2 linked regions of the Homo sapiens genome follow. The protein of the gene in region 2 interacts with the protein of the main gene of each other region in a pairwise test. Each region holds a gene or a part of one and is shown on either strand. Other genes may lie near its edges.

Region 1 (3,760 bases), on a different chromosome or scaffold from region 2:
AGTTGGAGAGTAAATGGAACACCATGCCTAGTACGATTGGCTAGTTTTAATTTACCTTTAAACACCATTTTCAAATTGTAACCTGTATTATTTAAATTTAAAAATTAAAACCTGCACATGCATGTAAAATATTTTTTTCTTTTATACCCACAAGATTTATTACATAATACACAATAAATACACAAGTATTTGTGTATTTGAATTCAACTTTTATTGCCACTTTAATCAATCCTAATAAAGTATCAAAAACAATTTACCATATCACTAAATATTTTCTAATCTGGCTGTCTGCCTGGATCCTAAAGGTCCAATAAAAAAATTAATTTGCAAAAAGTTGTTATGATAAATACACAAGTATTTATTGTGCATTATGTAATATACAATACACATAAATTGTTGAATTTATGCAGGCTGATTTACCCAACAAAACCACTAATCACCACTAGTAACTAAATACAGAACTCAATTTTCTCTACCTATACTTTTAGTCAAATACATTTTAAATATTTACATGATCTTATTCTTTAAAAGATGAGATAATTTAAAAAAAAGATGAGATAATTAACTCTAAGGTGAAAAAAGAAAATTTTAAAATGGAAAATACTGGTAATATCAAGTGTTGGAGTGGATGTGGACCAATAGGGAAGATTTATGCAATGGTGGTGGGAATATAAATTACTGCAATGACTTTGAAAAACAATCTGGCATTATTTTGCAAAACTGAATATTTACATATTCTAACACCCAATAATTACAACTATGTGTCTATACCTTAGAGTGGTGGTTCTCAAATGTGTGATCCTGTCACCTGCAGCATCTGAACCACATTTCACCTGCAAATTAAAAATGTACATTCCTACCCCACCCCAGACCTACTGAATATTAATCTTTGGGGATGAAGTCCAGCAGTTTTCTCAAGTCCTCCTCCTCCTCCAAGTGACTCTGATGCATGCTAAAGTTTGATTAACTACCTCCCTAGAAAAATGCTTGCTGCTGTGTGCCAGGATACATATACAGAAATATTCATGACAGCACTGTCAATTTAACAACAAAATATAAAGAAAATAAACAACCTAATGTCCACTGACAGGAATATCATGGTAGTATTTGTATAACATGTACTTTAATAAAGCAGTAAAAATGAATAAATTATCACTATGTCAGATATTATGGTTGGAAGAGAATTATATTGAACGAAAAAAGCAAGGACTGGCCTGGCATGATGGCTCATGCCTGTAGTCGCAGCACCTTGGGAGACTGAGGAAGGAGGACTGCTTGAGGCCAGGAGTTTGAGACCAGTCTGGGCAATATAGGAAGACATTGTCTCCACAAAAAACTATATACAGTATAATATCAATTTGAGATACCGTATGTCCCGAAGCTGATTTTTTAAAAATGTAACTTAGTGGCTAGGCAGAGTGGCTCACGCCTGTAATCCCAGTACTTTGGGCGGCTGAGGCGGGCAGATCAGGAGGTCAGCCGAGACCAGCCTGACCAACATGGTGAAACCCCATCTCTACTAAAAATACAAAAATTAGCTGGGAGTGGTGGCACGTGCCTGTAATTCCAGCTACTCAGGAGGCTGAGGCAGGAGAATCGCTTGAACCCAGGAGGCAGAGGTTGCAGTGAGCCAAGATCGCGCCACTGCACTCTAGCCTGGGTGACAGTGCGAGACTCTGTCTCAAAAAAAAAAAGGTGAGGGCCGGGCACGGTGGCTCAAGCCTGTAATTCCAGCACTTTGGGAGGCTGAGGCTGGCGGATCACGAAGTCAGGAGTTTGAGACCAGCCTGGCCAATATGGTGAAACCCTGTCTCTACTAAAAACACAAAAATAGCCAGGTATGGTGGCGGGCGCCTGTAATCCCACCTACTTGGGAGGCTGAGGCAGGAGAATTGCTTGAACCCGGGAGGCGGAGGTTGTATTGAGCCAGAGATCATGCCACTGCACTCCAACCTGGGCGACAGAGTGAGACTCCGACTCAAAAAAAAAAAAAAAAGGTAATTTAGTTATGCATATATATGTGACAAAACTATTTAAAAACACACGGCAAAGAGAAAAACAAAACAGGAGTACAGGAACGTGGATAAACACATTATGTTATTGATAACATGCTACTTCTTGGGTTATCTGGCAGATTTACAGATGTTTGCTATATTATGTTCCTCTTTTTATGTATATTCTTTATTGTATTCTTTTCTATGTATCAAATATATTAAGAAATGTTCAAGCTTAAAAAGTGGGCCCTCACTAGGTTCTTATTAATGTTTAGCCTTCAGAGGCAGAGGTTCAGATAAATTTTCACCTTTCTCCAACTCTAACAACGTAATGGATTCAAACCTGGATACTTACTACTAACAACATATTTCTTTTTCATTCTTTGTTGTTGTTGTTGTTTTAGAGATGGGATCTCACTATGTTGCCCAGGCTGGTCTTGAACTCCTGAACTCAAGCAATCCTCCCATCTCAGCCTCTCAAAGTGCTGGGATTACAGGCATGAGCCATTGTGCCTGCCCCCAACATGTTTCTGACCTAATACCAAAACCTGAAGAAAAGTTATTTCTTGGACCAAGAATGAAAACACGGTACAGAATGAAAGTATTTCCTACCCTGTTTGCCATGTTTGGCATGATGCCACATACTCAGAAGGCATTTACTAAGTGTTCACTGAATGAATGAATGAATGAATGATGAATTAATCAGTATACAAAAGGCCTAGGACTTGCACAGCTCATTATTGAATATTCTGAAGTAAAAAAAGCACTCTGTGTTCAAGACGTATAGAAACTCTGCACTGACATTAAGTTGCTCAGAAGCCACACACTGCATGCAGATGTGCAAGTCCCCATTTCAATTTCCTTAATGCCAACTCTTACAGGGAATATTAAAAAGAATAACGAAAATGTTGAGGCACATGGAAAAAGGATGACAGGTACAAACAACATAACTGACTCTTTCGGAGCAGTTTTAAAAAACAAAAACAAAAAAAACCCTCAAAATTTAAACCAAAGATTCCAGTGATTAGAACTAAGGCCTTCAAATGTTTCTGACCACACACCCCATTGGTAACATACTTTTGGGCATGTACTCAAACATCTGTATATTTATGTATTTATGAACTACATTCCACTGTTAGAAAGTACATGTTTTCCCAAATGATGAGGACTTTCAGTGACTCAGACTATGAATTAGCCACTAAGAATCTCCTAAATATTTATCATTAAATTTAGTGAAATTCTGCCAAATACAGGATTGACTTTAAACATTAAAATAAGCCGGGCATGGTGGCTCACGCCTGTAATCCTAGCACTTTGGGAAGCCAAGGCAGGTGGATCACATGAGGTCAAGAGTTCAGGATCAGCCTGGCCAACATGGTGAAAACCGTCTCTACTAAAAATACAAAAATTAGCAGGGCATGGTGGCAAGCCCCTGTAATCCCAGCTAAGCAAGAGGCTGAGTTAGGAGAATCGCTTGAACCTGGGGGGCAGAGGTTGCAGTGAGCTGAGATCACGCCACTTCACTCCAGCCTGGGTGGAAGAGCAAAACTCCGTCTCAAAAAATAATAATAATAAATAATAAATAAATAAATAAAAGTAAAAAACAAACAAAAACCAAAAAATCAGAAAAGAAAAAAATCTGAAGCCATTTGTCTTCATGCACTAGAACTTATTTCTAAATATCTTGCTAACTAGGATGACTCATCCTATCAATGGCTAATATTTCAAAGAATAACATACACTTAGGGAGAGGCTGATTATTAATA
Region 2 (3,500 bases):
TCATGTTTATGCTGTCAGGGTGAATTTAAAAAAAAAGCTCTCTTCCCACTATCTTGGAGCCTGTAGAGGCCTGCTGAGAACAGGACTTCCAAAAGGCAAATATGGGCGGGGTGTAGTGGCTCATGCCTGTAATCCCAGTGCTTTGGGAGGCTGAGGCAGGAGGATTATTTGAGGCTAGGAGTTCAAGACCAATGTGGGCAACACAGCAAGACATTGTCTCTACAAAAAAAAAAAAATTAGCCAGGTGTAGTGGCACATGCCTGCAATCCTAGCTACACAAGAGGCTGAGGTGGGAGCACTGCCTGACCCCAGGAATTTGAAACTGCAGTAAGCTTTGATCATACCACTGAATTCCAGCCTGGGTGATAAAGAGACTCTGTCTCAAAAATAATAATAAGATAAATACAATACATTTGGAAGGCTGTAGTCCAAGGCCATTTTTTGCTAGCTGTAAGTGGGGCCTCCAGAACCAAAGCGAGGACACAGCTCTTATTAAAATTGAGGTATTGGCCAAGTGCGGTGGCTCACGACTGTAATCCCAGCACTTTGGGAGGCCGAGGACAGTGGATCACGAGGTCAGGAGATTGAGACCATCCTGGCTAACATGGTGAAAACCCATCTCTACTAAAAATACAAAAAATTAGCCGGGCGTGGTGGTGGGCACCTGTAGTCCCAGCTACTTGGGAGGCTGAGGCAGGAGAATGGCATGAACCTGGGAGGTGGAGCTTGCAATGAGCCAAGATCGCGCCACTGCACTCCAGCCTGGGCGACAGAGCGAGACTCCGTCCCAAAAAAAAAAAAAAAAAAAAAAAAAAATTGAAGGTATTTATGCTCGAAATGAAACTAATTCTATTTAGGCAAGAGATGTACTTACATGTATAAAGCAAAGAACAACACACTGACTGCTGGCAGCAAACTGAAGAAAACCAGCATAATCTGGGGAAAGGTAAACTCAGGCCCATGGAAACAGTGGCATGGTTTGTGCTAAATTCCCAAGCAATCTTGCTAAAGCTATTGAACACAGAATCTGTGTGACGCTGTGCCCCTCAAGGACTTAAGCTAATGAAAAGTAAATAAATAAAAGTAGATTTATAAGAAAAAAAGAGTACAAATCTAAACATACCACTTCCTTGACTAAAACCCTTCCATAGTTTCCTACAGCTCTTAGAGTCCACCTTGCATACAAGGCTGGGTTGTTATAAACTCCCACAGCCTAGGTACCACCTTTTCCTAGCACTCACACCTCTGGGCTCAACCTACTTCAGTACTCATCACTATCTGTTTAATGTCCGTTGCCTACACAAGGCTTTGGGCTCTAGCCTGGTTTCTGCGTCACAGTGGTTTCTCCAGCAACTCACACTGTGGGCTCTCCACACATCCTGTGAGTGACTCCCTGGGTCCCTCATGTGCAAGGTGGGAAGCACTGAAGCTTCCTGCTGGCAGGATATCTTCTGTACCCACTGTGGTGTGCAGCCTGCTCTAGCAGTGGACCCCAACACTTGTGAAGCCTGCAGGAAGCCCACGGCCTCTAAACTCAGTGCAGTCGTGAAGACTCTCTTTGACATCCATTCTCAAAATTCTCCTGGACTTGGAATCTGGACTGCCTACTGGATTCTCACGACTTACCAACCGATATCTTTGACTGGTGCTACCCAAACTGTTTTCATGTCAGGGGACCTAGAGAGACAGATATTTGTACATTGCATTGCAGATGCTGCTGCTTAAAGTCAGAAGTTCACATTGCAGATGTCACTGCTTCAAGCCAGAAGCGACCAACTGGGGCTTTGACAGCCCTGAGGGGCGAGCGGATCAATATCTTGGCAAAATTATAGACCATCCAGGAGTTCGAGACCAGCCTGACTAACATGGAGAAGCCCCGTCTCTACTAAAAATACAAAATTAGCTGGGCATGGTGGCACATGCCTGTAATCCCAGCTACTTGGGAGGCTGAGGCAGGAGAATTGCTTGAACCTGGGAGGCAGAGGTTGCGGTGAGCCGAGATCGTGTCATTGCACTCCAGCCTGGGCAACAACAGCGAAACTCCGTCTCAAAAAAAAAGAAAAAAACAAAACAAAAACTGGCTGGGCGTGGTGGCTCACACCTGTAATCCCAGCACTTTGAGAAGTTGAGGCGGGCAGATCACAAGGTCAGGAGATCCAGACCATCCTGACTAACAGGGTGAAACCCTGTCTCTACTAAAAATACAAAAAATTAGCCGGGCGTGGAGGGCGCCTGTAGTTCCAGCTACTCGGGAGGCTAAGGCAGAAGAATGGCATAAACCTGGGAGGCGGAGCTTGCAGTGAGCCAAGACTGCACCACTGCACTCCAGCCTGGGCGACAGAGTGAGACTCCGTCTCAAAAACAAACAAACGAAAAACCCAAAAAAACCTATAGACCAACTGCGACACGCTGATTGGAATGCTCTACCCCAGGCATGGCATCTCAACTAGAATTATTCATTCATTCTGTCCATAAACATTTACTAAATGGGCTAAGGTGCAAGGGCAGCAATACTATTATATAGTGAACACTACTATAGAGTTAACCACGTGCTAGGAATGTCACATACATTAACTCATTTAGTTCTAACAATCCTACAATCAAATGCTATGATTATCCTCATTTAAAAGTGAGGGAACTGGAGGCCCAAGACCAAGTTAAGTAACTTGCTCAAGGTTACACAGCTAACTAGTAAAGGAGGATTTCACCCTAGGCCATTTAATCCAGAGTGTGACCTTAATTACTATGCTGCGAAGCACAGAGGTGAAGCTGGGGGTTTATGAAACTTGAAGCTACTCCAAAATACTTTTTTGGTGTGTGAGCCTTTGCATTTTCCAGGAGAGAGGGAAATCCAAGGCTGTCATCAGGGTCTGATAGGGATTAATGGTGAAGAACCACTGGTCAAGGTGGGGATTCTGACATCTGACATCTCTGGTCTATTAGCATCCTTGCCCAGAGCCCTGATAACCTCCACGTGGTCCCTGTCTCACAAGAGCTCTGCTCCTGGCCTCTCTTGGTCTGCTCTGACCTTCAAGCTTCACTCTCTTCATCAGGTAGATTCTTTGGGTAACCCGCTTTAGTGTAACTGCACTGTGTCAGAAGACACATAAGAGAAACCAGGTCTAAAAACAAAGCAGGCTGGGCACGGTGGCTCATGCCTGTAATCCCAGCACTTTGGGAGGCCGAAGTGGGCGGATCACTTGAGATCAGGAGTTCGAGACCAGCCTGACCAACATGGTGAAACCCCGCCTCTGCTAAAAAAAAAAAAAAATACAAAAATTAGCCAGGTGTGGTAGCACATGCCTAGCTACTTGGGAGGCTGAGGCAGGAGAATTGCTTGGACCCAGGAGGCGGAGGTTGCAGTGAGCCAAAATTGCATCACTGCACTCTAGCCTGGGCAACAACAGCAAAACTCTTGTCTCAAAAAAAAAAAAAAAAAAAAACCCATAAATAAATAAATAAAAATAAAAACAAAGCAGACATAGGTTGAAAAGGGATTG

The links. Proteins that work in one complex are often made in the same cells at the same time.
Region 1: the proteins of ZNF76 (region 2) and KCTD9 interact in binary tests that used the Homo sapiens proteins (3 or more experiments, as listed by UniProt).

The regions. Positions count from the first base shown.
Region 1 is NC_000008.11:25,451,674-25,455,433, forward strand, and holds part of KCTD9 (BTB/POZ domain-containing protein KCTD9), read right to left. Parts: intron 1,903-3,760; exon of another isoform or gene 1,871-1,902; intron 1-1,870. UniProt on the Homo sapiens protein: Substrate-specific adapter of a BCR (BTB-CUL3-RBX1) E3 ubiquitin-protein ligase complex, which mediates the ubiquitination of target proteins, leading to their degradation by the proteasome.
Region 2 is NC_000006.12:35,276,735-35,280,234, reverse strand, and holds part of ZNF76 (zinc finger protein 76), read right to left. Parts: intron 1-3,500. UniProt on the Homo sapiens protein: May be involved in transcriptional regulation.